Regions from separate parts of the Homo sapiens genome. Here regions 1 and 2 are each linked to region 3. The links come from fine-mapping of genetic effects on gene expression. A gene starts in region 3. Each other region holds a variant in brackets. All regions are shown on one strand. Distances are from middle to middle. Region 1 overlaps SLC25A12 (solute carrier family 25 member 12). Region 2 overlaps HAT1 (histone acetyltransferase 1). Region 3 holds the start of HAT1 (histone acetyltransferase 1).

What was found. PIP is the estimated chance that this variant, and not a neighbour inherited with it, causes the effect. A credible set is the group of variants that fine-mapping cannot tell apart.
Region 1: its variant is the best candidate, but not a certain one, in a credible set for the expression of HAT1 in monocytes (TOPMed, PIP 0.55).
Region 2: its variant is the best candidate, but not a certain one, in a credible set for the expression of HAT1 in neutrophils (BLUEPRINT, PIP 0.62).

The regions. Positions count from the first base shown.
Region 1 is chr2:171,835,438-171,846,269 of GRCh38, reverse strand. SLC25A12 (solute carrier family 25 member 12) reads left to right here. Exons shown (of 18, transcript NM_003705.5): 5 at 1,762-1,901; 6 at 9,003-9,149. Among named protein-coding and RNA genes, the nearest start is that of SLC25A12, 53 kb to the left of the region's middle. The variant G/A (reference allele first, on the strand shown) is at 4,753.
Region 2 is chr2:171,958,476-171,969,307 of GRCh38, reverse strand. HAT1 (histone acetyltransferase 1) reads right to left here. Exons shown (of 11, transcript NM_003642.4): 5 at 3,791-3,970; 6 at 3,400-3,521; 7 at 2,795-2,899; 8 at 2,359-2,465. Among named protein-coding and RNA genes, the nearest start is that of METAP1D, 36 kb to the left of the region's middle. RefSeq lists an enhancer at 4,516-5,465. The variant A/G (reference allele first, on the strand shown) is at 5,515.
Region 3 is chr2:171,916,035-171,926,866 of GRCh38, reverse strand. It overlaps HAT1 (histone acetyltransferase 1), which reads right to left and starts at 4,406. Exons shown (of 11, transcript NM_003642.4): 1 at 4,360-4,406; 2 at 1,226-1,330. The coding sequence starts at 4,366. LOC105373740 (a long non-coding RNA gene) reads left to right here and starts at 4,478. Exons shown (of 3, transcript XR_923579.2): 1 at 4,478-4,828; 2 at 5,636-5,787; 3 at 9,824-9,918. It overlaps LOC105373739 (a long non-coding RNA gene), which reads left to right and starts at 10,066. Exons shown (of 3, transcript XR_923578.1): 1 at 10,066-10,099. RefSeq lists enhancers at 4,132-4,181, 4,322-4,970.

The DNA of each region.
Region 1 (10,832 bases), 81 kb after region 3:
TACTTAATTAAATATAGTAATTTGTTCTAATTTGCTTTCCATTTTTAATTTTTTTTAACTTGAAGATGAAACACTTCTTTTTGTTAGACCTTAAAAGTAAGAAATTAATTAATTTGGGACTAGAAACAGCTAATTAATTAAGTTAGATCCTAAAAATCTTTAATAATCTGCTACAATATTTGTAGCCCTAAATATTTTCTGCTATCTTTATTATTTTAATTGTTTTGTAAACTTTAACATATTTTACAACTTCGAAGTTTCACATAGATTTAAGGATCATCTTTTGTGTTGGTTAGAAACCAGGATCCCACAAATTGCTATTGGGTTAATTCTTTGCTTTTTAAATTTGTATTTATGTAAGGTGAAAACGCTTGACCTATTGAAAACTTTGAAGTATTTGTCCCTACTTAGGGAAGAAATGAATCCTGCATTCCATTTCAAAGAAAAGATGAGAATCCCATCTCCCCAGTGACATCCAATGCCTTCTTCCAACTTTGCTGATTGCTGCAATCTATTCAGAGCTATTATATTGACTCTAGACTGGTAGAACGTCCAGTTCAGAATTCTTACATTCCCCTATCCCAGTAGTAATGCTTTTATTAAGAAAAAGTGTATGTATATAAAACTAAAGGGAATCCATTAAACCATTTACAATATGAGATCAGTATCTTATTTAAAGAATTTGCAGAAATTAGAGAAAACAGCATAGTTGGAGATTATAAAACTTTAAATGTGTATTTACTAATTCTCTAGTATAACTGATAGCTATCGATGGCAAAACTCTTTCACTAATAAAATTGGCTGAAATTTGAAAATAATTTTGTTCTTAAGACATCAGTTAAACAGGCTTCCTGCTTTCTTAACTTTGTTCATGATTTTTTTTTTTTGGCATGAGCTTCTAAATTAGTTTATCCAGTCTATGCTTGTTAAAGTACCAGTCATTTGTGAATTGACTTTTATAGTAAGTATAGAACTCTGTAAGAATGTAAATAACGTTGTTAGTGCATGAAGACAAGCTGCCAGAGGGTTTTGGTTGTATGTTACACAGTGTGACTAGTTCCTATCTAAAAATTAGTGTACTGTATTTAGCTCTTTATTTAAAAGTGAAACACTAATTTAACTTATCTTAAAATATTTTAATAGTTCAGACTAATAATCATGGATTTTATGGGGATTTTGAAGCTTTGTGTCAAGACCATATTTTTAACAATATCAGAAGCTTTTAATAAGGTGCTTGCTGCTGAGCTAATGATATGCTTTTGATAGTTTTTCTTATACCTATCTTCAATAGACATATTCAGGCTAGTGTGAATGTAATAATCAAGCCTCAATCAAACCATACTTAGTATGACAAATATTGCATTATACTGTAATTTAGGTATTCATGCTTCTGATAAAGGGTTTAATTCGACTCCTTGAGAAACTGGGAAAACACTATTGATTTTATACGGGATGTAAAATAGCAGCCATTTATGATGTAAGATAGAAATCACTTTCTAATTAAAATTAAATAAAGAGAAATTAAGAATCTCATGGCCTTATATGCAATGGTACATATTCTTAAGTGTAAAATTATATTTTTTGTATCAGTTGTGTTCCTGCGCATGGTTTCTGGGCACACAAAAAAATTGCAGTTATTTTAATAGAAGCAGATGATATTGACTTTTAAAACTTCTCTTAATTTTTTTCTGTAGGAACATTGCAGTGGTTTAAACTACTTATTCCAGATATAATTGATTTATTTTTGTTTTCCCTTTTAAGAAAATGTCAAAGAAATTTTTGGACAGACTATTATTCATCATCATATCCCTTTTAACTGGGATTGTGAATTTATCCGACTGCATTTTGGGCATAACCGGAAGAAGCATCTTAACTACACAGAATTCACGCAGTTTCTCCAGGTGAGCTTAGTTTTCATAACAGGTATCAATATATACTATTCTTCTGTGTCCTTCGCTTTGTATTTATTAAGTTTATTACAAAAATAGAAGTTCTCCATGGTATTTCACTCCTATTTTTTAAATTTCCCCCTCGCCAGAGACAACTTCTTTAAACTCTTAATAGCTGTTTCTTTCAGTGTTTACTTCCATTTATTTAAATAGTAAAGCACTTCTACTTTTTTTCTACTTTTAAATACTTTTTAATTGTATCCTAACTATAGAAGATTAGAAGCTAGTTCTTTCACGACTGGGCGCAGTGGCTCACGCCTGTAATCCCAGCACTTTGGGAGGCCGAGGCGGGCAGATCACGAGGTCAGGAGATCCAGACCATCCTGGCTAACATGGTGAAACCCCATCTCTACTAAAATTAGCCGGGTGTGGTGGCGGGCGCCTGTAGTCCTAGCTACTTGGGAGGCTGAGGCAGGAGAATGGTGTGAACCTGGGAGGCGGAGCTTGCAGTGAGCTGGGATCACACCACTGCACTCCAGCCTTGGCGACAGAGTGAGACTCCATCTCAAAAAAAAAAAAAAAAAAGCTAGTTCTTTCACCTCTCTCCTCTCCCTCTTTATCACAGACTTGGACTTCTGTCCCCTTTCCCCCAATATAATTATGTCATGATTCTGCTTAGATCAGTAATCCTATGAGTTATTATAATTTTGTAAATACTATTGGTGGCTGAAGTTATTATATATTTTTTTGAGACAGAGTCTGGCTCTGTTGCTCAGGCTGGAGTGCAGTGGTGTGATCCTGGCTCACTGTAACCTCCACCTCTTGGTTCAAGCAATTCTCATGTCTCAGCCACTCAACTAGCTGGGATTACAGGAGTGTGCCACCACACCTGGCTAATTTTTGTATTCTTAGTAGAGGTGGGGTTTTGCCATGTTGGCCAGGCTGGTCTGAACTCCTGGCCTCAAGTGATCTGCCTGCCTTGACCACCCAAAGTGCTGGGATTACAGGAGTGAACCACTGCACCTGGCCTAAAGTTATTGTTCTTAGAGTTTCTAGTTTTCATTTGTTTAGTTTTCTGTGTACTAATACTAAGTCATTCTCAAACCTTGGCCCAATTATTAAGATCTCTTTTTAATGCGTTTAAAACACATTAGGTATTCTATTAATTTCATCTTCTTGGAGCTCTCCAGGAGCTTTCTTTTTTAAAAAAATTTGAGGTAAAATTTACATAAAATTAATCATTTAAAAGTGCACAATTTAGGCCAGGTGTGGTAGCTCACGCCTGTAATCCCAGCACTTTGGGAGGCTGAGGTGGGCAGATCACTTGAGATCAGGACTTTAAGACCAGCCTGGCCAACATGGCGAAACCTTGTCTCCACTAAAAATACAAAAATTAGCCAGGCGAGGTGGTGAGTGCCATAATCCCAGCTACTGGAGAGGCTGAGGCAGGAGAATCACTTGAACCCAGGAGGTGGAGGTTGCAGTGAGCTGAGATTGCATCGCTGCACTCCAGCCTGGGTGACAGAGCGAGACTCCATCTAAAAAATTAAAAATAAATAAAAGTGCACAATTGAGTGGCATTTAGTACGTTCACAGTGTCTTATATCTAGTTCCAAAACATTTTTATCATCCCAAAAAGAAACCGTGTTCCATTAAGCAGTCACTTTCTATTTCTGCTTTCCCCTGAGCTCTGGCAACTTCCAGCCTACTTTCTGTCTCTATGGATTTACCTATTATGGATATTTAATATAAATGGAATTGTACAATATGAACTTTTCTTTTTTTTGAGACAGAATTTCGCTCTTGTTATCCAGGCTGGTGTGCAATGGCGTGATCTCAGCTCACTGCAACCTCCACCTCCTGGATTCAAGCGATTCTCCTGCCTCAGCCTCCTGAGTAGCTGGGATTACAGGTGTGCGCCACTATGCCTGGCTAATTTTTTGTATTTTTAGTAGAGACAGGGTTTCACCATGTTGGCCAGGCTAGTCTCGAACTCCTGACCTCAGGTGATCCACCCACCTCAGCATCCCAAAGTGCTGGCATTATAGGTGTGAGCCACCACGCCTGGCCAAACAATATGAACTTTTGCATCTGTTTTTTTTTTTTTCCACTTAGCATAATGTTTTTAAGAATTATCCATGTCATAGCATGTATCAGTGCTTTATTCCTTTTTTGTGGCTGAATACTATTCCATTGTATAATATAGTATAAATATGTTATATTTTGTCTATCCATTCATCAGCTGATGGACCTTTGAGTTGTTCCCACCTTATGGTTATTGTGAATAGTGCTGCTATGAACATATGTATACAAATATTTGTTTGAATACCTGTTTTCAGTTCTTTTGGCTATATACATAGGAGTGTAATTTCTGGGTCATATGGTAATTCTGTTTAACTTTTTGAGAAACCACCTGACTGTTTTCCACAGCAGCTGCACCATTTTCCTGTTGTTTCCTCACCTGCTTCAGGGCCAGAAGCCAGACTGTGTAAGCTCACTGCATAGGAGTCATTCTGTGATCACCCTTCACTTTTACCTTGGAGAATCCATTTGCTGTTCTGTTACGTTGAACCTCCTGTTTGCTGCATTTTATCTCTTCTTTTATTGCGGTTTACCTATTTTTGGTAGAATACTTCCTGCAATGGCTTCTTGAGGAAAGTGGAATAAAATTTTTTTGAGACTTTTCATATGTAAAAACCTCTTGTTCCGGCTGAGGGCAGTGGCTCACACCTGTAATCCTAGCACTTTGGGAGGCCAAGGTGGGGAGATCACTTGAGTCCAGGAGTTCGAGACCAGCCTGGGCAACATGGCAAAATGCCATCTTTACAAAAAATACAAAAACTAGCCAGGTGTGGTGGCACAC[G/A]ACTATAGTCCCAGCTACTCAGGAGGTGAGGTGGGAGAATCACTTGAGCCCAGGGAGGTAGAAGCTGCAGTAAACCATGATCCCACCACTGCACTCCAGCGTGGGTGACCGAGTGAGCCCTGTCTCAAAAAACAAACAGTCTGGGTGTTTTGGCTCACGCCTGTAATCCCAGCACTTTGGGGGGCCAAGGCGGGCTGATCACTTGAGGTCAGGAGTTCAAGATCAGCCTGGCCAACATGGTGAAACCCTGTCTCTACTAAAAGTGCAAAAATTAGCCAGGTGTGGTGGCAGGCACCTGTAATCCCAGCTACTTGGGAGGCTGAGGCAGGAGAATCTCTTGAGCCTGGGAGGCAGAAGTTGCAGTAAGCCAAGGACAGGCCACTGCACTCCAGCCTGGGCGACAGAGCGAGACTCCATCTCAAAACAAACTAACAAACAAACAAACAAATCCCTCTTGTTCCACCATTATGCTAAGATAGTTTGGCTGGTTATTGAATTCTAGTAGGAGTTTATTTTCCTTATAATTTTGAAAGCATTGCTCTTTTGTTTTCTAGTTTCCAGTGTTGCCACAGTGCCATTCTCATTCTTAATTTAATCTTGAAACTTTTTCCACTCTGACTCGGGAGTGTTTTAATATTTTTTCTTTTCTTTGGTGTTTATGAAATTTCACGATGGTATTCCTTGGTGTGAGTTTATTTTTATTCATTGGTCTGGGCTCTTCATTCATTGGGCTTTTCTAATCTGGAAACTTACGTCCTTCAATTCTTGAAAATTTTATTACTTTTCTTATTCTATTTTCTTAGTTTCTAGGACTATTAAATGTTACATTTATGACCTTTTAGTCTTCTTTTCTCTCCTATTTTCCTTCTGAGCCTTCTATTTTCTATTTCTGCTGTATTTCTAATTTTCAGGAACTCTTTTTGGTTTTCTGAATATTCCTTTTAAAAAATAGCATACTGTTCTTGTTTCATGGATGCACTCTTTTCTTTCACTTCTTCAAAGATATTGAAGACAGGTTTCTTTGTTGTTTTTTTAAAGTTTTCTTCTTGCATAGTGTCTGCTTTCTCCACATTTATTTATTTATTTTTACTCTTTGTTTGGGTCTCTGTTTTTCTTTTTCTCTTTTTTTTTTGAGTCAGGGTCTTACCTTGTCCCCCAGGCTGGAGTGCAGTGACAGGATCATGGCTCACTGTAGCCTTGACTTCCCCAGGTTCCAGGGATCCTTTCACCTCGGCCTCCTGAATAGCTGGTACTACAGGCGTGTGCCACCATGCCTGCCTAATTTTTTGTATTTTTTGTAGAGATGGGGTTTTGCCATGTTGCCTAGGCTAGGTCTTTTATTTCGGATTAGGGAATCAGGGAAAAATTGTCTAGTCTCCAATCTGGAATATTAGATCTGGCTTTTGATGTTTTGGTTGCTGAGTAATAAGTAGTTGGAGGTCTCAGTGTTCAATTTTGCAGAAGGACTTTCAGTTTACTACCTTTTTTCACTGTAGTATTCTCCCTCTCAACTGTGTGTGGTCTATGCTGGTTCAGAGATCCTCTGTTAAACTCCTCAGACAGTAGACCTCTAGTCTTCTGCCAAGGTTGGGAAAGGGTGGAGGCCTTATTTGGAGTAAGGCAGGGGTAACTAACTGCTTCTTAAACAGATATCCAGCTAAGCCCCTTGTTTTCAGCTCCACCTTCACCATCACTTCCAGAGGTACCAATGCAGCTAATAATTGAATCTTTTGGGGGTCCTGTCATGTACATTGGCTTCCTTTTTGGCTTTTTCTGCTTAGTTTTTTTGAGTCCATTAAGTCAGTTGTCATTTGCTTTTCTGCTTTCTGATCTTAAAAATATAGTTGCCATCTTCTCCTTTTCTGTTGTCTTTGTCCTTGCGTTTCTGTTTTGTTTTGTTTTGTTCTTTTATTGTTATTTTAGTGGAGAGTGGCATTTTGGAAGACGGTGGAGTTAAATGTACAAGTTCACTCTCATCCAGTCACACTGTTTCTGAAGCTCTGCTAATTTTCATCTCATAATTAGATGAAATGCATTTTCAAGGGCATAGGATCTTTCCCTTCAGCATAACTGCCTTTCTTTATCTTTCCTTTAGTTCTCCTATCCACCTACCTACCTACCTACCTTTTTAACCCAAGATTTATTTATTTTACCTTTTATAAGCCCACAGTATTGTTTTTCTTCATTAGGATGAGCACAGATTTGAAACTATGGGCTTTAGGTGTGGGTATTTGGAGGTGCCAGTGTTTGTTCTAACTCTTTTCCCTGTTAGTGCTTATCTAACTCACCTTATAAAATTCTCAAACTTGAAAAGTTGAAAATATATGCATTTGAGAGCTGACTTTTTTAAAAAAGGAAATGTCTGCCTGATTAGTGTTTAAGATTCTTCCAAAGATTACTTTCTCTCTTTCTCTCACTGTTTTCCTTGCATTTACAGAGTCTATTTTACAATATCTATTGTACCCTGATGTTTTAATTATACTGTATAAACTGAGAGCCGCATATATGTAACTTCTTTTTTTCTGTGTTTAACTTCTCATTTTTAAGTCATTAATTTTATTTTTTAAAATCTTTTTTATTTTGGAAGACTTCAAATATACTCAAAAGTAGAGAGAATAGTGTAATGAACCTCCTGGACCTATAACCAGCTTCAATAATTACCACTTCTTGGCCAATCTTTTTTATCTATACCCTCCACCCTGCCTCCTGCAGGATCATTTGGAAGCCAGATGCACATACTCTATGATTTTTTCATCTGTGATCCTTCAAATACGTATCTTTAAAAGACAAATAAGAGTCCTTTAACTGTTGACCTTATAGAAAACAGACAATCTATTCTACTAACACTACTCCTTCAGTGAGCATTCTGCTTCATCTTGAAGGTAAAGGTCCACATCTTCTTTAGTACTGAGTGTTATTAATAAGGCTAAATTGTACCCATGGCTACCATTTGATATTTCTGGGTGATTAAGACATATAGGGAAGACAAAGACATAAGAAAGAGATAGAAAAGAGGTAGAAGGAAAGAAAAAGATATAAGACAGGGAGTGAACCTGTGTCTACTTTTGATGCTATTTAGGAATATCTTTGCCATGGGGACCAATTTCAAATCCATGTAATGATGTAGATGGATTGAAAATTCCCACTTCATTTGAAGGGTGAAGTGGTTGGAGCTGAGGTCATGGGAAAATGGAGTGAGTTATCACAAGTCCATAGGAAAATATAATTAAATAAAAATGATGAGACTTCTATAAAAACTACTTTTAATGTCATGAAAAGTTAAAGCAACATTAATTTGTAGTCTTTGATAAGTAAATGTGAATGAAAATTATGTAATCTTTAAATAATATGTATATACTTAGATATGACTATTATTTACAGAGTTGCAAAGAGTGTGACGGTGGCATCCAATAGCAGCACCATTGTTATGTTTGCTAACAGGTTTTTTGCATTTAGTCATGGATCCCCACAACAGAAATGCTCTGATTTTGACTTTTGTATAGTACACAGGGGATTGCTGGAACATTTTGTTGTTTTTGTGGATATCACTTATTACAAAGTTTGGTTGCCCAATAGTTCAAAAGTTCAGAGATATTCTGGACTGTCTTACAGTTTATGAGTAACGGTGCCCAGAGCCAGTGATAGCTGAACACTACTTTTGCAGTTTGTTATTCCTGACTTTCATTTTAGAATGACTGAATATTGCACTTACCAGTTGGTAGAGTTTCTCACTGAGTTTATTTGAAAAATTTGTTTGAAAAAATGGTCTCTAATTCATTTATAGAATGACAGAGAGAGAGACTTTGATTGCAACATTTAAAATTGAAAAACTGAAAATGAATCTAAACTCTTAATTCATGAAGTACTCTTTGATGACAGGTAAGCCTTCAAGCAGGAGAGATAAATTACTGTATATTTTAAAGGCTGAAATGAAGCACCAAAAACATTATTCTCTGTTTTCAGTAATGAAAACTTGTCAAGTAAAATCTAAGGGTTATTTTTTCCTACCTTTCCTTTATTGATGTGCTCTCATTCATTCTTTTTCCTGAGGAGTAATATGTAGTACATTTTTAAGAAAGCTCATGCTTTTTGAAAGAAATTAAAAGTTTTGTTGCAAATTCAGATCTGTGCATTGTTTGTTTTGTAGTAAGTACATGTGTGGGAAGGATATCTGTCCTTCCTTCCTTTCCAAACCATGTACTTGGAATGTGTTTAACCAGCTTAATGCCCTATTTCTAATTTCCTCACAGGAGCTGCAATTGGAACATGCAAGACAAGCCTTTGCACTCAAAGACAAAAGCAAAAGTGGCATGATTTCTGGTCTGGATTTCAGTGACATCATGGTTACCATTAGATCTCACATGCTTACTCCTTTTGTGGAGGAGAACTTAGTTTCAGTAAGTAAAAAGCAAGTTCTTTAACTTTCTATTTCCTCAAACCTTTTGATCCATTGAGTCCTGGATTGCCTCCAGGGACTCATATGACTCTCAACTATTCAAATTTCATGCTTGGTTGGTAGAAAGTAAACAGGTTTGTGTGTGTGTGTGTGTGTGTGTGCATGTGTGTGTGTGTACGTGAATGTATGTATGTGTGTGTGTAATGGAGGTAGAGGTGATGGTGAGTTATCTTTTCCCGGATCATAGTTTTATTCAGAGCCACCATCTTGCTGTCATCTATTTCCAAATTGTTTATTTCCATTTACAGAGTCCAGTTCAAGGGAAACAAGAGTTTATAGACAAGGGTGAGCAATTACTTTTTCCAGTGGGCAGTAACTCTCCCAGACACTACTGCCTTCATCTTGGCCTCTTTCCACACCACCGGGCTCCCAAGGTCTTGCTATAAAGATGGCTCCTTCCTTTGTTGCCTTCAGGGTGCTGTCTGCCGGAGGGATCATCACTGGCTTCTGCAGTGTTTTAATAACCATGCCCATGGCAGAAGGTATGGAGGAAATATGTGGCCATCAGCCTCTGTGGCTCACTCCTCTCTCTGCCCCTTCACCTGTACATTCAGTCTGTATGCACCAGACATAGTTTTTTGTTCTGTCAAACTGCTAATCTCTATAAAGTAATCATCTGGACCAATAGCAAACTCATGTCATCCACTTCCTCACATAGAGTGGTGAAACTTTCCTCACTTACCCGTTTTCTTGTCTATGCGTTGTACTTATGTATAAGTTTTTGATTACTGCTTGTTTTGAATGGAGGGAAGCCAATGAGTGCCTTTGTTGTTTCAGCTGAAGATCATTATCCCTGATTTAGACTGGGGTAGAAAGATCAACTTCTGTTCTTTTTCTTCAGTGAATCTGAACATGGACCATGTCACTTTCTCCTACACGTTTCACCTCCTTGACACCATCCCCCACTCCCCTGCCCTCACCTCATACCCCAACCAAAAAAATGAAAGAAGGAAGGAAAGAAAGGGATAAAGGGAGAGAGAAAGAGAGAAAGGGAGGGAAGGAGAGAGAAGGGAAGAGAACCCTAGAGGGAGGGGCTCAGTACCTTAGTGGGAAGGGACTCATTTAATCTTTTCCAACTAGGTTAGATAGACCTACTATAATAGCCTCAATTTTTTGAGGCTCAATTTTTTATAGTTTACCAAAAGTCAATTCTAATCCTCAGAGGAGTATATGAAAATTTGAGTCCAGCTTTTTGGGTTGCTGGTATCCAAATTCAGGCTAACACAAATATAAACTGTATTTAGGTTAAGGCATGTGTGTGAGGGGTGGTGGGGTGGGATATATTTGCTCATCATTACCTACACTATTTGTAATAGACCTTTATGATTAAAATTGTTACATTGATATTTACATAAGCATTTCTTTGCATTTTTAAAGGAGAATGTTTTCAATCATATGGGTTCCTCTGACTTCTGGCTTGGAAATGAGGCTTTTGCAAACTATGCAAAATATTCTCTTTTGAGTTTATGTCCAAGTGGTGAGCAGAGAACAAATTACGTCTTCATCCTGCAGAGGTAATGAAGGCCACGTTGCCCGCCATCTCAGGCATGAGGGAGCCTCTTTTGCACTATTCCATTGAAGACATAACTCAATAGTGAATAAATTCTCTCCAGATTTTCTACAT
Region 2 (10,832 bases), 42 kb before region 3:
AGAACAATAAAGTACATTTAAAGGACAAATATAATTAGCTCTTAATGTACTACTGATAGATAATAATACTGATATGTATTCCAGCCCAGAATCGATTTCTATTGCCAAATGCAACTCCTTTCAGAAGTCCAGAGGAAACAAGATCATTGATTCTATTTATAAAGTTATACAACTGAGATGTATTCAAATGCTGTACATCTTAAGAGAATAGTATCTTCAAAAGGCAGATGGTATACAAGGAATTGTCTGCCAGTATTTTACCTTAAAATTGAGTGCAAAAAAATGAAAATGGGTGGCAATTATACCACAAACACCCATCCATTGGAAGTAAGATATAACTTAGGCCATCTACAGGAAGTTTCAATTATTATTAGATCTGGCTATCTGTCAAGTAAGCAAAAGGCCATCTCAATATAAAGAATATTCTGGATTGCAAATGGAGATCCAGAGCCTGCAAAAGAACCACAAAGCTAAAAAAGCACACACAATAATGGAGAAACAGGCAACTAAATGACAGAAGAGTAGAAAAATCTGCAGTTTTGTTTTTTAAGGACTGGGTATGGAAATCTAGGAGAAATAAATATCTTAATGAGAACAGCTGATAAGGCATTTTTAGTATTTTTAAATGCTGAGAAATGTTAATGCTGAAAATAAAGGCCAATACCCAGTTGTCAAATTCAGAAGTCCTTTAGCATGTTTAGTCTTTTCTTTTTAGAGACTTCAGTTTCTAATGAATAACACCAATGAATAAAGGCTACCATTATTGATGACTCTTCACTGAGATTTAAGAAATAAAATTCTTTATCTGCTAATTGGTGCTAAGTATCAAGGACTTTATTGGTTGGAGTAGACAGAAGAAAGTGGTTAAGAGGCTTCAGAGAAACAACCCCTGCTGGCACATTACCCACTAGAGTAGACAAAGACTACTTATGTGAACTCCACATTAAAATCACCAAAAATGTCCCTTCATGTAGCAGCAAGTCTAAGCTCTATAAGTTAATAGAAGCTAAACAATTTTCTGCTCAACTAAAAGAAGTGACATAGTCTGTATTATGTTTCTACAATTTTATAAGTCACTAAGCTAGTGAAGTTGTCGCTTAAACAATTTATAACTTTTGTTATAAACGAAGTTTAGTAACTACTACTTTATCTCCTGAGTTTCCAACCCATTTAACAGTAGCAGGAAAGTCAGATGAAAAGATAATTCACCTCTATAAATGTGAAACTCCCTTTTAAAGACAACGTGCTTTCCCTCCAGTTTATTATTCTACAGATCAATTCACTGTTCTGAAGCAACTTCAATTTTATTTACCTTGGATTACTAGTCTATATAAAGAAGGATGAAACAATCTGCTTACTAGCCTATTTATGTGGTTGCCAGTCTTACAACCATTTTTTTTTTGGTGGGGGTGGGTGGGTGGGAGGTGGTGTCTTTAAACAAAATTCCCAAATAGCATTTTTTAACATGTTAATGTTTTAGTGCATGTTAAATAGTATAGTTTGTAACAAAGATGTATCCAAATTCAAACTTGTAAGATTAATAAATTTTAATACCAATTTGCATGTAACTATCTGGTAAAGTATTTTTCAATAAAAGAAAAAGGTAACTTTCAGTTTCATCAGCAATTTTATGAACAACAAATTTGAAAGTTAGAAAATAACATAAATATTCCTTGGGCCACTTTGTTTTTTGGTGGATCACACTTTAACATATTATCTGAAACTCCATCTAATAATGCCTTCTCCTTTTGAAGAGTCAAGTCGAGTAAGTCGAGTAAGTCGTCTTTCCTTCTCCTAAGCATTCTATTCATACTACTACTTCTATGGCTAATCCATACTGAAAGACATTTCCAAAACAAATAGGCCTACATTTCACCTTATCTACTACTGTTGTGAAGGCATGCATTTTAGGAATACAAAACACACACTTTAGGAAATGTGTATTCTATTCAAGAAGTATTTACCTTGACTTTTTTTCTCAGTAAAGTTTATAATATTCTGCCCCTACATGTAAATTAAAGTGCAGGCTGCCTCTAAATAATGCAACTGTTTGCCAAATAAAGTGAACAAATAAGTTATACCATACTTTCAACGTATTTACGCCTGACCAAGACTTCCCCATATATATTCAGCTCATTATCTTCAATTTGTTCCATTATGCACTTCACAGTTAGGGATGTAATCCAATCCCCACAAAGGCTTATGCTCTAAAACATAAACTTAAGCCATCTTTAGATGGCTTAAACACCCTAGGAAAATGTTGCTGTTTAAAATAGTTATTTCTGACAAAAATAAAATCAATCAGTAAGAAGACATTTTTAGAAAGGCTCTTTCAGTAACAAATCAAATTTTACATACCTGTAATATCAAGAACTGTAGGAAATTCAGTGTAGTATCTATGAACTGTTTCAAGAAGTTGAGCACCATGGCCTTGACCTTGAAATGGAGTCAAAATCAGCATCTGACTACAGTAAAGAAATTATTTTAAAATTAAAATATCATAACATGACCAGTTTAAAACCTGCAGATCACTATAGTATTACAAACACTTTAAAGTTTGTGTGATCTTTTTTTCAATCCACCTTTGAGATACCCAAAAATTATCAAGATACTCAAAATTAGTTTAATCTTCTACACTGTTTCAAAGGGAACAATGAAATAAATCAGTACATAGCCCATGAATAATAGTGATTTTTTTTTTAAACAAATCAACACTATTATAACAAGTATTGGAAACTTCAGCAGTTCCTTCTTCTGAAATAAAAGACAAGGCACGTGTTATACTGCCAATTACCTTACACGTGGCCGGGTTTTGTCTGGGTACACATAGTAATTATAGACTGTCATGTAGCCTACGGTCGCAAAGAGCGTAGCTCCATCCTTATTATACTTCTCAAATCTGCAGATAAAACAGAAAGCCAAGCAGGTCAATTACAGTCGCGCTCCCATGCAGTGTCCATTTTCTTTTCCATTCTCTGACTGAATTTTCAGTGTCAGCAAGCTACTCTGTGAGGGCCCAATGGGTACACCTGCTATGTTCTGAATGTACAATTCACTTAATTGGTGTGCAGCAACTTGGATAAATCAGACCTCTTTACATCACTTCAGTGCACTTGCCTATTATAAAGATGAATAGGTGGCAAGTAAAAGAAAACACAGGCAAAGCTCATTTTACTGTTTAAGCCTACATTCAGGGCCCTAACGGACAACAGCATTTAATTCAGCTCTATTCTCAAGGTCTCCCAAAGCATAATGAAGGAAAACTCAAGCCTCATAAACAATAGTTTTTCTTTCCTGGGAAAAATATCATTATACTGTCCCAATAATTGGGCTGCCACAATTAAAATGCTGGCTTTGTGGAGGTAATAAGGTCTACTGTTGCTTTAGAACTGTACTTACACTAGAAAGTAGTGCCATCTTTCATCATCCACGTCAATAAAGCTAGCAGTTTCAATAAACCACATCAAAAAGGTCTGAAGCCTTTCATGATATTCTCGAAAGCCTCTACATGTCATGTCAGCCTAGGGAAAAAGCCAGGAAAAGTCAGGTGAAACTCATCACAAAGGTAAGTGAAAGTCCGCAGAACACAAAATTATCCTGTGGGAAAATGTTTAGAAGTCTCAGATTAAGATGTGAACATAGATACAGACATACACACAAAATAGATCTTGGTTTATAATGCTGATTAAAACTTGTTTACTGCAGTTAGAATAAATCACTGACAACAAAACTACATACAGGTTTCAGGCAAATAGAACTTTACTCAATAAATATTTAGATTTATCTTTACCTTATATATCTGAAAGGTAAAGTTTTCTCCTCCTGTTGGACTGAGAACTGAGTAGGTATGAAGTAAGGTTCCGAATGGCTTGAAATCAACTTCCTTTTCCAGTAAAGAAAGGAAATCATTCGTGTTTGTGCAAAATCCAGGTGGAATGATTTGTCTAATTTTGCCCTCAACATCATCTGCCTAAAGAATAAAGGATATAAAAAATTAATAACAAATTCGACTTTAAGTTGAATATGGTTTATTTCTTTAAAACTGACAAAACCAACACAAATTACAAAACTTTGGTTGAAAACTAAAGAAGTAAACACACAGCGAATTGGAAAAGGATGAGCTTCCTGTGCACAAACTGCATCACACAAAACTGAGATGAGCATAATATAAAAGTAAATAAGAGAAGGCAGGTGACCTGATACCAAGTACAATAATAAGGGCAATGCTATGGACATTTCCATTATGCAGAAACAGCTGACTATACCCCTTCATGACAGTCTGAACTGGCCAAGGCAAAAGGTTGCTTATTATTTTATATGTGTCAAAGAAATCATATTATCCAAGACATGAAAAGATCACCAGCAGTGGTGAGATGAGACTAGAGTCTGACCAAATGAATAGCAATCTCACAACTAGATGGGTCACAATTCCCTCATATGCCAAACTCAAACTAAGATGATAACTTAAAAATATACATATTTAGGAAATAACATAAATTATATGAATGGATATATCATTCTTTTATCCTTAGAATGTGACACAATTCTTACAGACCTGGATTTGTGACAGTAAAAAAGAGACAAGACTGGACAACAAAACTAAACTCGGAGATTAAAATTACCCTTGTTAAACAACCTCTATCAATGTTATCAGCTGAGCAGACTTCATAATCCTTTTCAAAATCCCAAAAGACCACTTGATTGAATACATTTACTACTTCTCTTTAACCATGAATATTTGATGAAGTCTTACAATAAAGTATTGCTGCTTCTCACCAGGCAATAAAACTTAATGAATTGGTCTCAACTTAACAAAACCTTATCCCTCAATACAGTCCCTAAAAGCCTGACATTACATTCAACAAAATGAGCTTGTATTCTATTCAAACTTTTTCCTGAACAATGAGGCCAGGTTTTTACTTAATGGAGTTTGCCGTGAGTTCAGCTGTAATGTTTGTATTGTATCTATTTCCACAAGGACTGACACAAGAACACTTTGTGTTAACTTACTAAGCAGCTCTTTCATACCGTTTACATGCATGATGGGTATTAGTTCTAAACCAAGACCCTTGCTACTTAGCATTCAAAACAGGGAAATTAAGATGCTTAGGACAAAATACACTACAAAAGGCTAATACAACATGCTACTAATTCCTATCCTTTCAACCATCTTTTAACTAAGTAGAAGCAATGCACCTGCAGATGAATAGCACTTTATTATGATTCAGTTACATTTCAGGATAGAGAACCAGTGATGACGTTTATCACAAACAAGTTTTATTTTCAATGCTCTGGTACCACCAACATTTATATATAATTTGTTTATAGGTATAAAAAAGACCTATTATTGAAAATATAGCTCTTCAGCATTTTGCCCAACAGTTTATTTCTAATATGTACATCAGTCCTTGCAACTCATTCACACTCTAGATCAAATAAACTGCATTTCATAGGACAGTTTTTGCTTATTTTTAAAGTACTATTTGATAAATATTTTTCCTTGAAATTGCTAAC[A/G]TGAAGAGGCCATCGTAAGCATATTTTATAGTATCAGTACAATTTCAACAGCTATCAAGGAAACTGTCATAATGAGGGATAGCTGTAATAGATGTGTTGTGTAGCAATTAAAATCCAAAGTAGTGATGAGTAAAACAGTATAGTATGTTAGTTAAGGTTTTTAAAAAGCCAAGAAAAACTACTTTTAAAAAGGGATTTATAATCTATCAGTTTAAAAATCACTTTAAGACTTTCATAGCATGTATAATTTTAACTTTTAAAAACTTTCCTTATGTCCTGTCTTCTCAAGAAGGCATTGCAAATCACTTTACATATCTTGTATCAAATCTACTTCAAAGACTTCTCAGAAACTCTAAGTTTCAAGTAGCACTTTTGGTGGCGGGCAGAGCAACCAGAAGGTTTGAGCCCAACAAAGTTGAAAAAGGGCTTTCAGCCTTCAAAGGATGTCTATTTCCTGTAATAAATATCTTCAAATAAAATAGTTTGCTTTGTGTAAGTTTACACATTAAGAATTTTTACGGGGCAAAGGGCAATTTTAAAGCAAGGAATCTTTATATAATTATATAAATATATATTTATAAATAGTTATGTATATAAATATGTATCTGATATACTTACATAAAATATACAACTTAAAACCAAATAGTTCTTCAACCTAGAATTTACAACTTCGCTTCACTAAAGGGAAAATGTCTGCATTTCTCTATTAAATGGATTCTGCTTTAAGAAAAAAAAAAATCCTGACTACCATGTCTTAGAGATCTGTACTCTTTTCTCAAATATATAATTTAGTTTAATTTAAAATATTCGTCTTTCAGATTGGATTACTGATCAGATAATAAAATCAGCACAAGAGCAAGACCTCATTTAATCATTGTTAATTGAATAGAGTTAAAAATGAACAGAAACTTTTTAATTCCAATGTTTGTGGCTAAAAGTTTAGAATCTATTTCTGAAGATCACTGAAAAATTCCCTGTATTCCAGAGCATTATTCTAAACTTCAACTAAAATTATACAGAAATATAGAAAGGGTAAGAAATTCAGCTGACTAGACACACCAGGGAACTAGAATTTCAAAAAAATTTTTAAAAAGACACCAGGCTGGGCATGGTGGCTCACACCTATAATCCCAGCACTTTGGGAGGCCAAAATACGCACATCACCTGAAGTCAGGAGTTTGAGACCAGCCTGGCCAACATGGTGAAACCCTGTCTCTAATAAAAATACAAAAGTAGCTGGGCGTGGTGGTGTGCACCTGTAATCCCAGCTACTTGGGAGGCTGAGGCAGGAGAATCACTTGAACTTGGGAGGCGGAGGTTGCAGTGAGCCAAGACTGCGCCACTGCACTCCAGCCTGGGTGACAGGGTGAGACTCCGTCTCAAAAAAAGAAACCAGAATACAACCTGATATATTTAATTAACAAAGACATCTCTTACAAATGGTTTCCTAACGCTTGGTAATTTATTTTTAAAAAGGAAAGTGCAAAAGTATTCTAGTTAGATATTCTGGTAGGTGGGTCATTATGAAATATTTTTAGATTGTATACTATTTAACTATGGTCATTTCAAGTTCCAGTGTTCTGTACTTTATTACACATGAACATGTTCATATGGAGCAATTTTTGCATTTCCTCATTATTGAATAAAGCGATATGCCTGATAATTAGTAATCTATTTTTTTAATGTTTATATTTGTATTTATACACATTTGAAAACCCAATAACCTCTCTAACATCTTATCTTAAGCAGCACCATTTGTCTAAATTTGTCTAGTTATTTTTGAGATTGAAATTAAAGGCACGTTAAGTAGGTGGTAACATGTTGTTCTTTACTTGGCTAAAGTGGTACATAGACTTAACTATAATTCTAAGACTACCTAAAATATGCTAAAAAAAAAAAAAACAAGCAAAAGAAATTCTGTATCTACTTAATGTTCTCAATCTCATGTTCTCTGATAATATTTAAGCTTTAACTACAGAATGTATTGTTGAGAAATTAAAAGTGTGAACTTTTTCACTAATGGAAAAACAAAGGTCATATTATGTTTATTTACACTGCATTAGTATTTTGCTACTTGAACTAAACAAGATAAACTTGTCAATATATACTTTTAAAGCTCTTTATGATATTTCATAAAAAGTATTACTTATCAAGAACACCATCACAATTTGAAATTTTACTAGTCTACCAAAGATTTTTTCGAAATTTCTGGAAGTATGTAGGATTTTCCTAGAAAGAGGCTAAACACTCCATAAAATTTTTAAAATCTGCTCTCATATCCTCTCAAATTCAATCCAATTAGTGGGACACTAGGATAAAATAACTGAAATTCACAGTTAATACAAACTTTATCCATCTATTTCAACTTCCTGTACCAAACTTTTCCCAGAAATGCTAGCAATTAGCAAGACAACAATCTTAGTTACCCACTACTTCACTAAAAGGCAATGAAATTACCCCCAAGAAAAGGCAGGAGGTTTTTGTTTTTAAGACAAGAGTCTTGCTCTGTCACCTAGGCTGGAATGTAGTAGTGTAACCATAGCTTACTGCAGCCTTGACCTCCTGGGCTCAAGAGATCCTTCTGTCTCAGCCTTCCAAGTAGCTGGGACTACAGGAGCATGCCATCATGCCTAGCTTTTGTTTTCGTTTTTTGAGACAGAGTCTTGCTCTGTCACCCAAGCTGGAGTACAGTGGCGCGAACTCGGCTTCCTGCAACCTCCACTTCCCGAGTTCAAGTGATTCTCCTGCCTCACCCTCCTGAGTAGCTAGGACCACAAGCACGCACCACAACACCTGGCTAATTTTTGCACTTTTGGTAGAGATGAGGTTTCACCATGTTGGCCAGGCTAGTCTCAAACTCCTGACCTCAAGTGACCTGTCCACCTCGGCCTCCCAAAGCGCTGGGATTACAGGTTTGAGCCACCACGTTCAGCATTTTTTTTTTTTAATAGGCAGGGTCTTATTATGTTACCAAGGCTGGTCTCAAATTCCTGGCCTCAAATGATCCTCCTGAGTCAGCCTACAGAGTAGCTGGCATTACAAGCACAGAGCAGGAGGTGTTAATAAAAGCAAAGGTCAAGGACAACCAGATGAAAAAATCATCAGTGTCTGAATAATCAAGTTTATTGTATTGTAAAATTCAGAATTATGTTTCCTTTAAAGATGGTGGCTAGTAGAGATTTTATAGGCATCTTAATTGTGACTGAAGAATTTTAGGTGCAACTAGAGCATTCAGCTTGGAAAAGTAAAAGAATGGATGATTAAAAATTAATGTAATGACATAATCCTAATAAGAAATAACTTCTAAGCAGATGTTATGGCTGCTGACCATCTATGCAGTATGATCTGCAAAGCCCTAATATATTAGACTCAAACCTAACATCCAAAATAAAATTTTTTTATTGTTTCCACTTAAACCTATTTCTTCTATAGTTTTCCCAGTTAACAGTACCATAATTGAACTTGGGCAATGGGGTTCTCGTTTTTTTTCTTCATCTGTCACATCTAATTCAACAGCAGACCTCCAAAATGTTCCTTACTCTGACAACTAAGTCCAGTGTCACCTCTAACACTGCAATGTTCCGGTCTCTTCTTTCACTTTTGCCCTATACAGTGTGTTCTCTGCACAGCAGCCAGAATCATATTTTAAAAATATAAATCACATTGTTTATGACCTCCACCTACTTAAGAATGCCTCTAAAGAATGCCAACTACTCTTATTTCTTGCAAACACCTATCACAGAACACAAGATCCTATATGATGATCTAGCTTTGCATCCCCTTCAACCATCTCCTACCCCTCTCTCCATCACCACAATGATTTAACCCTGGTAATCTTTCTGGACTACAAAAATGCCAAAAATGCTGTATTTTTAGAGCCTTTGTATCTTAGTAAGCTTTACCCTCAGATTATAACATGGCTGGTTCCTCCTTTATCATTCAGAAATGAGCAAAATGTATCTTCATAATACTGCCTGAATTTAATTTGTGTATTTACTATTTTGTTTACTGACTGTTCCTCTTGGCTAGAATGTAAGCTCCATGACTTTGTCTGCCACTGTATCGCTGGCATCAACAACACAGAAGGCACTATGGAATGAACACTCACTGCAAACTGAGATAGAAGAAGCAAGCCCATGACCCACATATCCCCTACCCAATCGTTTTTAATAAGGGGAAAAAAGTCTTTGTTTGAATACGCAATATAAATGATCTTTGACCACAAAGCAAATAAGTAACTCTACAAAGAGACATTATAAAAGATTGATTCCTTATTCCTAACACAGTATTTCTAAATGGAAAAACCTAATTTTCAAGAATGGAACAATTAGATGTCAATGCAAATACACAGCTATTTTCACTGCATGAAATATTTAAAAGATTTATCTATAACTAAATCAATAGTTCCTTTGGAAGAAATCAATTCAGTGCTATCAGCTGCAACTGTAAAAAACAAAAACCCTCCAACAGTGGGTTTACACACAAGGAAAAACATCACCTGCATTTTTAATAAGAATATCTAGCTGGGCTTGGGTCTGGAGAATTTAGCAATCTACATATTTGATTATGAAAAAACTCTATTTTAATAAATGTGTTAAATGCTAGTTTATCTAAGATTACATCTTTTCAAACATCAAACCACTACAGTATTACTCAGAATCACTTTTGTATCTGCACAATTTCAAAAGTTATCCTGGGAAACAAACTATATAAAATAAAACAAATATTAAATGTAGTTACATATTATTTATCTGGCAAGCTCAGTCATCTCAAACATGGCTGGGAAGTGGGGAAAAACACACAAAAAAACCAAATAGAACTCAAAATATTTCTAATACTAAAGTTGAATAATGAATATGAAACTACTTCAGATCTTTTTCATGCTATGCACAATTCATATTATATGAAACTATTTCAGATCTTTTTCATGCTACGCACAATTAGTTTTATAGATGGGGCATAGGGTTGGCAAAAGAGGTAAAGTCAGAAGTTAATGTCAGTTTAAAGTCCTGAAAAAGTTGGTGGCATTGTTAATGTTTTAGGAACTGCTACTTCTGCAAAAGAAAGTTATGACATACAGTATGAAGTAATCAGATTCCATCAAGCTTACCAATATGGTATTTTTAACCATAAGGGGTTTGCTAGTGTGAAGCTCCTTACAATGATAGCAGTAAACTGGGAGCACATGGCATAAAACACAGGAGAAGGCTGGGTACGGTGGCTTGTGCCTGTAATCCCAGCATTTTGGAAGGCCAAGGTGGGAAGATTGCTTGAGGCCAGGAGTTTGAGGCCAGTCTGGGCACTATAGCAAGACCCCG
Region 3 (10,832 bases):
CGCAGCTATGAACATTCATGTACAAGTTTTTGCGTGAACATACATTTTCATTTCTCTTGAGTAGACAGATACCTGGCAGTATAACTCCTGGGTCATATAATTCATTTATGTTTAACTTCTTAAGAAACTGTCAAACCAGGAGGGGCGCTGTGGCTCACAGTTATAATCCCAACACTTTGGGAGGCCAAGCCAGGGGACTGCTTGAAGACAAGAGTTCAAGATGAGCCTGGACACATAGACACGTAGGGTCCATCTCTATGAAAAAATTTTTATAAGCCAGGCGTGGTGGCTCATGCCTGTAATCCCAGCACTTTGGGAGGCCAAGGTGGGCAGATCACCAGAGGTTGGGAGTTCAAGACCAGCCTGACCAACATGGAGAAACCGTCTCTACTAAAAATACAAAAAATTAGCCGGGCGTGGTGGCGCATGCCTGTAATCCCAGCTACACGGGAGGCTGAGGCAGGAGAATCACTAGAACCCAGGAGGTGGAGGTTGCAGTGAGCCAGGATCACGCCATTGCACTCCAGCCTGGGCAACAAGAGTGAAACTCCGTCTCAAAAAAAAAATTTTTTATAAAAATTAGCCAGGCTTGGGTGGTGCACACCTGTGGTCTCCTAGCTACCTGGCAGGCTGAGGCAGAAGGACTGCCTGAGCCCAGGGGTTGGAGGCAGCAGTGAGCTATGACCATGCCGTGGCACTACAGCCTGGGTGATAGAGTGAGACCTTCCTTGTCTCTTTAAAAAAGAAAGAAAGAAAAAAAAGGGGTGAGGGGAGGAAATGAAAGAAGAGAAGGAAGGAAAGAAAATAAAAAAGACAGAAAAGAAAATTGCCAAACTGTTTTCCAAAATAGTTATATCACTTTACATTCCCACCAGCAATATACAAGTGTTTTTTTCCACATCCTCACCAATATTTGCTATTGTTTATTATTCTTACAGGCAAAAAAGTAAAAAATATTTTTAAGAGGCTAAAACTATATATACTTATTACTTTTTGCCCCACCGTCTTTCCTTTTTATATAAAATTCTGTCACCTTTCAAACATCTACACCTTCCATGACATAAATCAAAACTGAATAAAATCTGAATATGTTCAATAAATGCAGAAAACCATACATTTGCATAAATAACTGCTCTTACATAAAATTTTACTTCAAATTTAAAATGAAAGATTATATATACACACACAGTATGTACATAACATCACTTAGAAATGGCATACATACCTAATTTTAGTTCAATTGCTGTGTTGGTGTTACATTTGTACTCTGCCAGTTTCTTCTCCACTGCACTCTTATATTCTACCAAAAATTTCTCCATAGCACCAAATCCTAAGAGAAAAGGTTTTTAAAAGGTTTAGTTTGGAAGTGACTTAAATTGTCAAACCTGCAATAGGGTTATTATAAGTGGAATAGGGGTATGATTTAAAACATGCTGATAGATCATAAAAGCACAAGTCATTCTCCACATACTCTTAAATAAATGTATTAAGAATGCCAGCTGGGCACGGTGGCTCACGCCTGTAATCCCAGCACTCTGGGAGGCTGAGGTGGGTGGATCACAAGGTCAGGAGTTCGAGGTCAGCCTCGCCAAGATGGTGAAACCCGTCTCTACTAAAAATACAAAAATTAGCCGGGCACGGTGACGGGCGCCTGTAATCCCAGCTACTTGGGAGGCTGAGGCAGGAGAATCTCTTGAACCCAGGAGGCAGAGGGTGCAGTGAGCCGAGATCATGCCACTGCCCTCTAGCCTGGGCGACAGAGCAAGACTCCATCTCAAAAAAAAAAAAAAAAAAAAAGAATGCCTCATTACAAAACAGAAAAAGAAATCACTTTTGAGATACAGGCTTATAAACTAGGAATACTTAATATAAATGAATAAACCTGAAAATTAACATGATAGATTACTAACATTTCTGAACATGTACTAATACAAATTACCTGCTAGGATTTATACCTAAGTCGTCTTTTTCATTATAAGATGTAAAAAGCAAAATGAGAATGTCCTCTGATAATTATGACAGAATTTCATTTTAAGTATTGGAAAAAGTCTACCAGAGTGCTTCAGATAAGGAAATGATAATGCATGGAATGTCTCAAGAAGAATACACAAATATCTGGTAACCATAGTTACCATGGGTAAAGAAAGAAGGAAGAGGAACAGGGGCACAAAGAAAACATCTTTCCACTGTATTAAATATTTAAAAATCATGTATGCCTAAAGTCATAAACTGTGAGCTACTGGCACAATAGTTTTACTACATAGTGGCTACTCAATAATATACATAATAAATAACATTGGAAGATATCACTATCAAGAGAAACTTTCAAGATAACAAATCTCCTGACAAAATGGGCATATGATTAGTAAAAATGGGCTGGGCGCGGTGGCTCACGCCTGTAATTTCAGCACTTTGGGAGGCCGAGGCAGGGGGATCGCGAGGTCGAGACGGATATCATCCTGGCCAACATGGTGAAACCCCATCTCCACTAAAAATACAAAAATTAGCTGGACGTGGTGGCGCGTGACTGTAGTCCTAGCTACTCCGGAGGCTGAGGCAGAATTGCTTGAATCCAGAAGGCAAAGGTTGCCGAGATCGCGCCACTGCACTCCAGCCTGGTGACAGAGCGAGACTCAGTCTCCAAAAAAAAAAAAAATCAGTAAAAATTCAGACAGAAAAAAGCCATAAGCAAAAAATAAAAAGGGGTACAATGATGTGCTATAAACTTCAAAAAGGGGTTAAAACACACACACAGAAAATGGGAAAGACTTGAAGCAGTACAGATTAATAGTCTGGAGTGAGAATTCCTGGATTCTGACTATTTCACACACTTACTGAGCTAGTAAGCTCAGGGAACTAGAGCACATTACTTAACCCCTCTGACCCTAATCTACAGAACCGAGATTACAGAATTTACTTCGAGGAATGTAAGCAACAAAATTTAACCTGTGAAATCATATATTAGCTCAATCTGCACAATTCTATAAGTAGGTATTACATCAACCCCATTTTACATTCAAAAGTTCAGGCTTAGAAAGAGGTTTAGTTGAAGGGCATCCAACTACTAAATGATGGGCCCAAAATTCGAATTTAGATGTAATTCTTAGAGTACGTCCTCCCTCTTCTGTGGTACTTCAAGATCCTACAATCTCCATCTGGTAGAAAAGTCCTTCTTTAAACATCTGTAGAGCTCACACAACAGCTTGTCTATCCCACATATTCATAAAAATGGAATGGTTAATGTAGAGAGACTATGAGGAATGCCCTGTAAAGAGATGATAAAAGCAACAAAGGCCAGCGAAGTGGCTCAATCCTGTCATTCCAACACTTTGGGAAGCTGAGGCGAGAGGATGGCTTGAGGCCAAGAGTTCCAGACCGGCCTGAGGCAATACAGCCAGACTCTGTCTCTAAAAGGTTAAAAAAAATTGTTTTTTTTTAGCCGAATGTTGTGGCGCATGCCTGTAGTCCTAGCTACTCGGGAGGCTGAGGCAAGAGGATCGCTTGAGCCTACGAGGAGTTGGAAGCTGCCCGGAACTATGATCGCTGCACTCCAGCCTGGGCGACAGAGAGACCCTGTCTCAGGAAAAAGAAACTGTCCATAACTTCAAAAGATAAGTAATCGAAAAAAATAATCACACCAAAACAGCCTTAATACACGTACAAAGTAATAGCAATTATACATTATTAAATGTTGTAACTTGAAGGGTCTCTAGAATGTACACAAGAGAATTGTATTATAGTAGTCCAACCCTAAAAGAGAAGGGAGCAGTTCAGGAACAAAGTCTTTCTCAAAGGGCATCTAAATACGATCCTCGGAATACTAAAGTGTGACAGATTAACGAGACGACTACGAAGTCAGTCGAGATCCAAGTGGGAGCGCCAGAGCAGGGCAAGGCAGCAATGCGCTAGCTCAGAAGTTGACTGTAGTGGAAGGTAGACGGAGACCTGGAAGAGGAGGAGGATCTGAGCATTAAAATCAGCTGGCGGGAACAGGACCAGATGTACAAGAGCTGAAGCAAGCAGCAGTGGACAAAAGGAATGGGAAGAGAAACAGGCCCCAAGGCATGTGGCATTTTACGAGCCCAAATCATGACGCTTTTCCCTGGCGTCTTCGGCCCTCGGTAGGGGCCGGATTGCTGGCAGAAGGCGCAGAACCCCAAGCAGTTGGGGGCGGGGGCGCGGACCGCCGCCAACAAGGAGCTGCTGGGCTGAGAGTTCCGCGCTTCCGGTCCCAAGCAGGCCTTCTGGAACCCAGGCTACAGCCCGAAAGTTCTAGGCGGGCATTGTCACCACCGTCTCGGCGTTCTATCCCCGATCTGGCCGCCTCCTCCCCTTGGTAAACTTTTCCCGGTAACTTACCCGCCATTTCCGAGCTACGATCACCCGCGGCTGAGGAAGGACGAATCAACCCGCGCGCTCCCGGGCCGGAAGTGACCGCACAGTCTGACATATTTTCCCCGCCCACTCCCAGCGTGACGTTAGCCAATTAAAGGAGGCGTGTCCAGGAGCCCGGCGGCGGAAGCGCCTCAAGAGGCGGGGCTAACGCCGAGAAGTCTGCGCGGGCCGTTGCCTAGCCACTGCGAATGCCGTCAGCCGCTTTGCAGGCCTGAAGTGGAGAAGGAGGCCGCAAACGGACTTTCGCGGTTGAGATGCTCTCTGGCCCTAGGAAAGTTTCTCTGGGGTTGATTTGATCAATACAGACACTTTACGCCTGTTTTCCATACCCGTCCCTGAGATGTTTTGGAGACTGGCTGAAAATCTTTCCTCTTGGCCTGGACAGTGCATCCAAACACCTGAGCCCTGTGGGCAATTTTACCATTTTACCTAGGTAAAATGTAGAGGTTGAGTTTCAGTTGCGGGAGAAGCTTTCACTTGTTTTCCTCATTTGTTTCTCATTTTGCTGTAAACTTTAACACCTTTTTTCCTTTCTCCCCTGTTTTTAACGTATACAGTATGATATTTAGGTACTCTGCTTTCACTCTGCAGGTTACTAAGAACCGTTTAGCGCGCAAAAATCGTTACCTAGGCCGGGCGCGGTGGCTCACGCCTATAATCCCAGCACTTTGGGAGGCCGAGGCGGGTAGATTGCCTGAGCTCAGGAGTTCGAGACCAGTGTAGCCAACATAGTGAAACCCCGTCTCTACTAAAAATACAAAAATTAGCCAGGCATGGTGGCAGGCGCCTGTAATCCCAGCTACTCGGGAGGCTGAGGCAGGAGAATCGCTTGAACCCTGGAGGCGAAAGTTGCAGTGAGCCGAGATTGCGCCACTACACTCCAGCCTGGGCAACAGAGTGAGACTCCGTCTCAAAAAAAAAAAAAAATTGTTACCTAATAAATACCTCAAGTAGCCTGATGTAGTCTTGCATGCCACATGTCCTAGTGGTTTGAATTACATCACAAGGTGCTACCTGATTTTAGCCATAGGCCTTGTTAGTATTTAGTAGCTGTAGGAACTGCTTTCCCCAGAGGATAAACCACTATTTAGGTATCCACAAATATTCCCACAATGTTGGCTATACACCAGAATTCCTTATCTCAACAAATATTTGTTAACAGGTTTTACAGTGATGCACGCTAAAGCTAAAATGGACCCTTGGGATGATGGTCTAGAACTAACACGCCCTCTCATTTTAGAGATGAGGAAACCAAAGCCCAGAAAAGATAAACTGCCCAAGTTCATTCTCAGTATGCAACCTATGCAGAGTGCAGTTCATCAGATACTCAGCCCAGTATTTATTTGCTCAACTATATAGAGATGGCTTTCCTGAAGATAAAGATCAGAAAAGGTACTGAGAATGCCCAGATCCTTTTTCTTTCTTTTTTTTTTTTTTTTTTTTAGACGGAGTTTCACTCTTGTTGCCCAGGCTGGAGTGCAATGGCACAATCTCAGCTCACCACAGCCTCCGCCTCCCGGGTTCAAGCGATTCTTCTGCCTCAGCCTCCTGAGTCGCTGGGATTACAGGCATGCGCCACCACACCCAGCAATTTTGTATTTTTGTAGAGACGGGGTTTCTCCATGTTGGTTAGGCTGATCTCGAACTCCCAACCTCAGATGATCTGCCCATCTCGGCCTCCAAAAGTGCTGGGATTACAGTCGTGATCCCAAGAAAAGGTTTCAAGATCCTTTTTCTTGAAACCTAATGATACACAAGAAATTACAGTCATAGGCCGGGCGTGGTGGCTCACGCCTGTAATCCCAGCACTTTGTGATGCCGAGGCGGGCGGATCACGAGATCAGGAGATCCAGACCATCCTGACTAACATGGTGAAACCCTGTCTCTACTAAAAATACAAAAAAAGTAGCCGGGCGTGGTAGCGGGTGCCTGCAGTCCCAGCTACTCAGGAGGCTGAGGCAGGAGAATGGCGTGAACCTGGAAGGCGGAGCTTGCAGTGAGCCGAGATCCCGCCACTGCACTCCAGCCTGGGCAAGAGCGAGACCCCGTCTCAAAAAAAAAAAAAGAAATTACAGTCATAATGTTAAGACAGAAAACTGAAATCAATGAGACTAATGACATTATGGATCAAAAAAGGAAAACAATCTTTTTCTTTAATAATCATTTTTGGCTAGGCACGGTGGCTCACACCTGTAATCCCAGCACTTGGGAGGCCAAGGCAGGCAGATCACCTGAGGTCAGGAGTTTGAGACCAGCCTGGCCAACATGGTAAAACCCTGTCTCTACTAAAAAGTACAATAAATTAACCAGGCGTGGTGACATGAGCCTGTAATCTCAACTACTTGGGAGGCTGAGGCAGTAGAATCGCTTGAACCCAGGAGGCGGAGGTTGCAGTGAGCTGAGATAGTGCCACTGCACTCCAGCCTGCTCAAGAGAGCGAGACTCCATCTCAAAAAAAAAAAAAAACTTTTCTTTTCAAAATGGCAAGACTTATCATTTCTTTCCAAAATCACCTTATCTATGGATCAATTGCTGACCAGCAATTATGATCTTTATAAGTAAGAAATCAAGAAGAATTACGTTTTAACTGTGGTATATCACAGATTATTAGTCCTGTGATATTATGGTTAGTTGTAGGAAAAAAATATGATGAAACTTACTGATATATTGTATGACTAGCATTTAATGTGATTTGCTTGCAGAATTGAGGTTTTATATTGTCCTCGTCTTAGATGTTCACTTTTTTTTTTTTTTTTTTTTTTGAGACAGGGTCTCACTCTCACCCAGGCTGGATTGCAATGATGCAATCATAGCTCACTACAGCCTCCAGCCTCCAACTGCTGGGCTCAAAAGATCCTCCTGCCTCTCAGCCTCCCAAATAGCCAGGACTACAAATGTGTGCCATTGTGCACAGCTAATTTTTTTGTTTTTTGTAGAAATGGAGTCTCAGTATGTTGCCCAGGCTGGTCCCAAACTCCTGGCCTCAAGCAATCCTCTCAGCTTGGCCTCCCGGAATGCTAGGATAATAGGTGTGAGCCACCATGTCCATCCTCACATTTTTTTTTTTTAATGTTACAGAATAGATGTTTTGGTACAGTTTACCTAAAAGATAAAAGAATGACTTATTTTGGAAAGGTAATGTGAAAATTACCCAAAAGGAAAAAAATTCTCTTTTTTTTTGTAGGGATTTCTTTCCTTTTTTAACTTATATTTTACTTTGTTCTAAAGAGAATTTAAGAAAGCAACTATTACAATCATGGAATAAAATTTCTATGAAAGGAATATGCTATCCTCATATATATATGGAAGAGACAACATATCTTGTGGGAAGTTTACTGCCCTACTAGTCCCAGTTCTACTACTTCATGCTTGTTCAACCTTGTTGCATCTATTAAGTGGAGATAATAGTACTGCCCAGTCACCACACTGGGTTGCTGTAAAAACTAAACGGAATAATATTTGTGAACGACCTTTGTAAACTCTAAAACTCTATGCAGGTATGAAGTGGTATTACTATGATAACATTTATTCTAGTAAGGGAGATTTGGAAAAGGCATTTTCTTCAGAGAAAAGGGCCATATTACACTATTAGGTATGAACTGGCAACCATGTGTTGGTACAGGCTCAAGTTCATATGGACTGATAAACTTCACTATCTTGCTTTGAAACCTCCAGAATGGATTAAAATTTGGCACAAAAAAATATGGTCATCGGGCCGGGCGCAGTGGCTCATGCCTGTAATCCCAGCACTTTGGGAGGCCGAGGCAGGCAGATCACGAGGTTAGGAGATCGACAGCATCCTGGCTAACACGGTGAAACCCCGTCTCTACTAAAAACACAAAAAATTAGCCAGGCGTGGTGGCGGGCGCCTGTAGTCCCAGCTACTTGGGAGGCTGAGGCAGGAGAATGGCATGCACCCAGGAGGCGGAGCTTGCAGTGAGCCGAGATCATGCCACTGTACTCCAGCCTGGGAGACAGACTCCGTCTCAAAATATATATATATATATATGGTCATCAGAAAATTGATGCAGGAAATCAATTTTAAGAAAAATGCATGTATGTAATGTGTCTTCATTTCAAAATGCATACCTTTACACAGACAAATAACAGTAGTTAGTTAGCTCATTTTTTTAGCTCGTAGTGCTAATGAGCATAAAGTTATGAGTCTCAGTTCCCAGAGCAATTATCCAGAAACCATTATCCAGCTAGATGACTTCCAAATGGGATACAAGAAAGAAAATAGGCTGGGCGCGGTGGCTCACGTCTGTGATCCCAGCACTTTGGGAGGCCGAGGCAGGCAAATCACATGAAGTCAGGAGTTCGAGACCAGCCTGGCCAACATGGTGAAACTCCATCTCTACTGAAAATACAAAAATTAACCGGGTGTGGTGGCATACACCCGTAATTCCAGCTACTCAGGAGGCTGAGGCAGGAGAATTGCTTGAGCCCGGGAGACGGAGGTTGCAGTGAGCCGAGATCCCGCCATTGCACTCCAGCCTGGGCGACAGAGCGAGTCTGTCTCAAGAAAAAAAAAAAAAGGAAAGAAAGAAAATAAAAATGGACCGGCTCATGTTGAAAACTACTGTAAGAGGACCCCTATCCTAAATACACAAAAATTACCAACAGTCTTTATTTTCCAACTCTAATGTACTACCCATACGTGTATAAATTAGTAACTTTTGAGGGGCAATTTAGAAATTTTAACACATTTTTACAAATGTAACAAAATTTTCAATTTGTGTATCCTTTGAGGCAACAACAGTTCCACTTTTAAGCATTTGTACTGCAAAACTATTTCACAGAAATGCAAAGATACACTAAAACAAAGATGTTCAATGCTGTATTATTTTCACTGGCAAGTTGAAAATAGCCTAAACTACTAGCACAAGGGGCTGGCTAATATGTTCTATCTCCTATACAATAGGCTAAAAAATAAATTACAAAAAATATAATGTTATTTCATTTATATAAAAATATATTTTGATATAAACAGAAAACATCTGAAAGCATACCTCACAAACTTAACTATAGTTGCCTTTAGGGGGAATTTAGAGATGGGGATTAATGAGGTTTTTTGTTTTTGTTTTTGTTTTGGAGACAGAGTCTGCCCAGGCTGGAGTGTAGTGGCATGATCTCGGCTCACTGCAATCTCCACCTCCTAGGTTCAAGCAATTCTCCTGCCTTAGCCTCCCGAGTAGCTGGGGCTACAGTGAGCATCCGCCACCACACCCAGCTAATTTTTGTAATTTTAGGGTTTCACCATGTTGGCCAGGCTGTTCTGGAACTCCTGACCTCAAGTGATCTGCCTCCTTGGCCTCCCAAAGTGCTGGGATTATAGGCGTGAGCCACCGCGCCCAGCCTAATGAGTTTTTTTATTCTTTAATACCATTTGTCTCTTTCAATGATGATGTATTGGTTTCTTTCACAGTTAGAAACTTATCCATCTGGCTGCGCGTGGTGGCTCACACCTATAATCCCAGCACTTTGGGAGGCCAAGGTGGGCAGATCGCCTGAGGTCCGGAGTTGGAGACCAGCTTGACCAACATGGAGAAATCCCGTCTCAAAGAAAAATACAGAATTAGCCGGGTGTGGTGGTGCATGCCTGTAATCCCAGCTACTCGGGAGGCTGAGGCAGGAGAATCACTTGAACCCGGGAGGCAGAGGTTGCGGTGAGCCAAGATCACGCCATTGCACTCCAGCCTGGGTAACTAGAGCAAAATTCCGTCTCAAAAAAAAAAAAAAAAGAGAAACTTATCCATCTTTTTGGAGGTTTTTAGACATGGTTGCTAACTCCCTATCCTCTTCTCTACATTCGACGTATTATGGTACACAGACTCTAAGGGAAGCAATTTAATCAAAACTAGGAACAATTAGTTGAAAACTAATATTTTCCATTTTGCATTTTGTCATTATTTACAAGCAAAGATTGGCCAAAATAACAAGCACTATAATTATTTATACCTGTTTTCAAAATGACTGTCCAGTGATGCCTGCTTTACTTTTGGAAACTAATTTATTAGAATGGCATTAATTATGTATTTGTCTACTTTTGGTAGGTAATACAATAATAACTGTGATATTATACATTCTATCATTAAAATGCTATTTTAAGTATTATTATTATTATTTTTTTTTTTTTTGAGACGGAGTCTCACTCTGTCGCCTCTGTCCCAAAGTGCTGGGATTACAGGTGTGAGCCACCGCACCAGGCCATTGTCTTTCTTTTAATGTAAAAAAACACATAACATATAACTTACCATGTTAACTATTTTTAAGTTTATAGTTCAGTAATATTAAGAATATATTCACCTTGTTGTGAAATCTGTCATTTTAATAGGTTGGTTTTCAGTCAACTCCTTTGTAACCTATTTACCTATATCACTATGTACAGCAGGAGTTTTAACTTCCCATGATGTGGACACACAAAGTAACAAGGT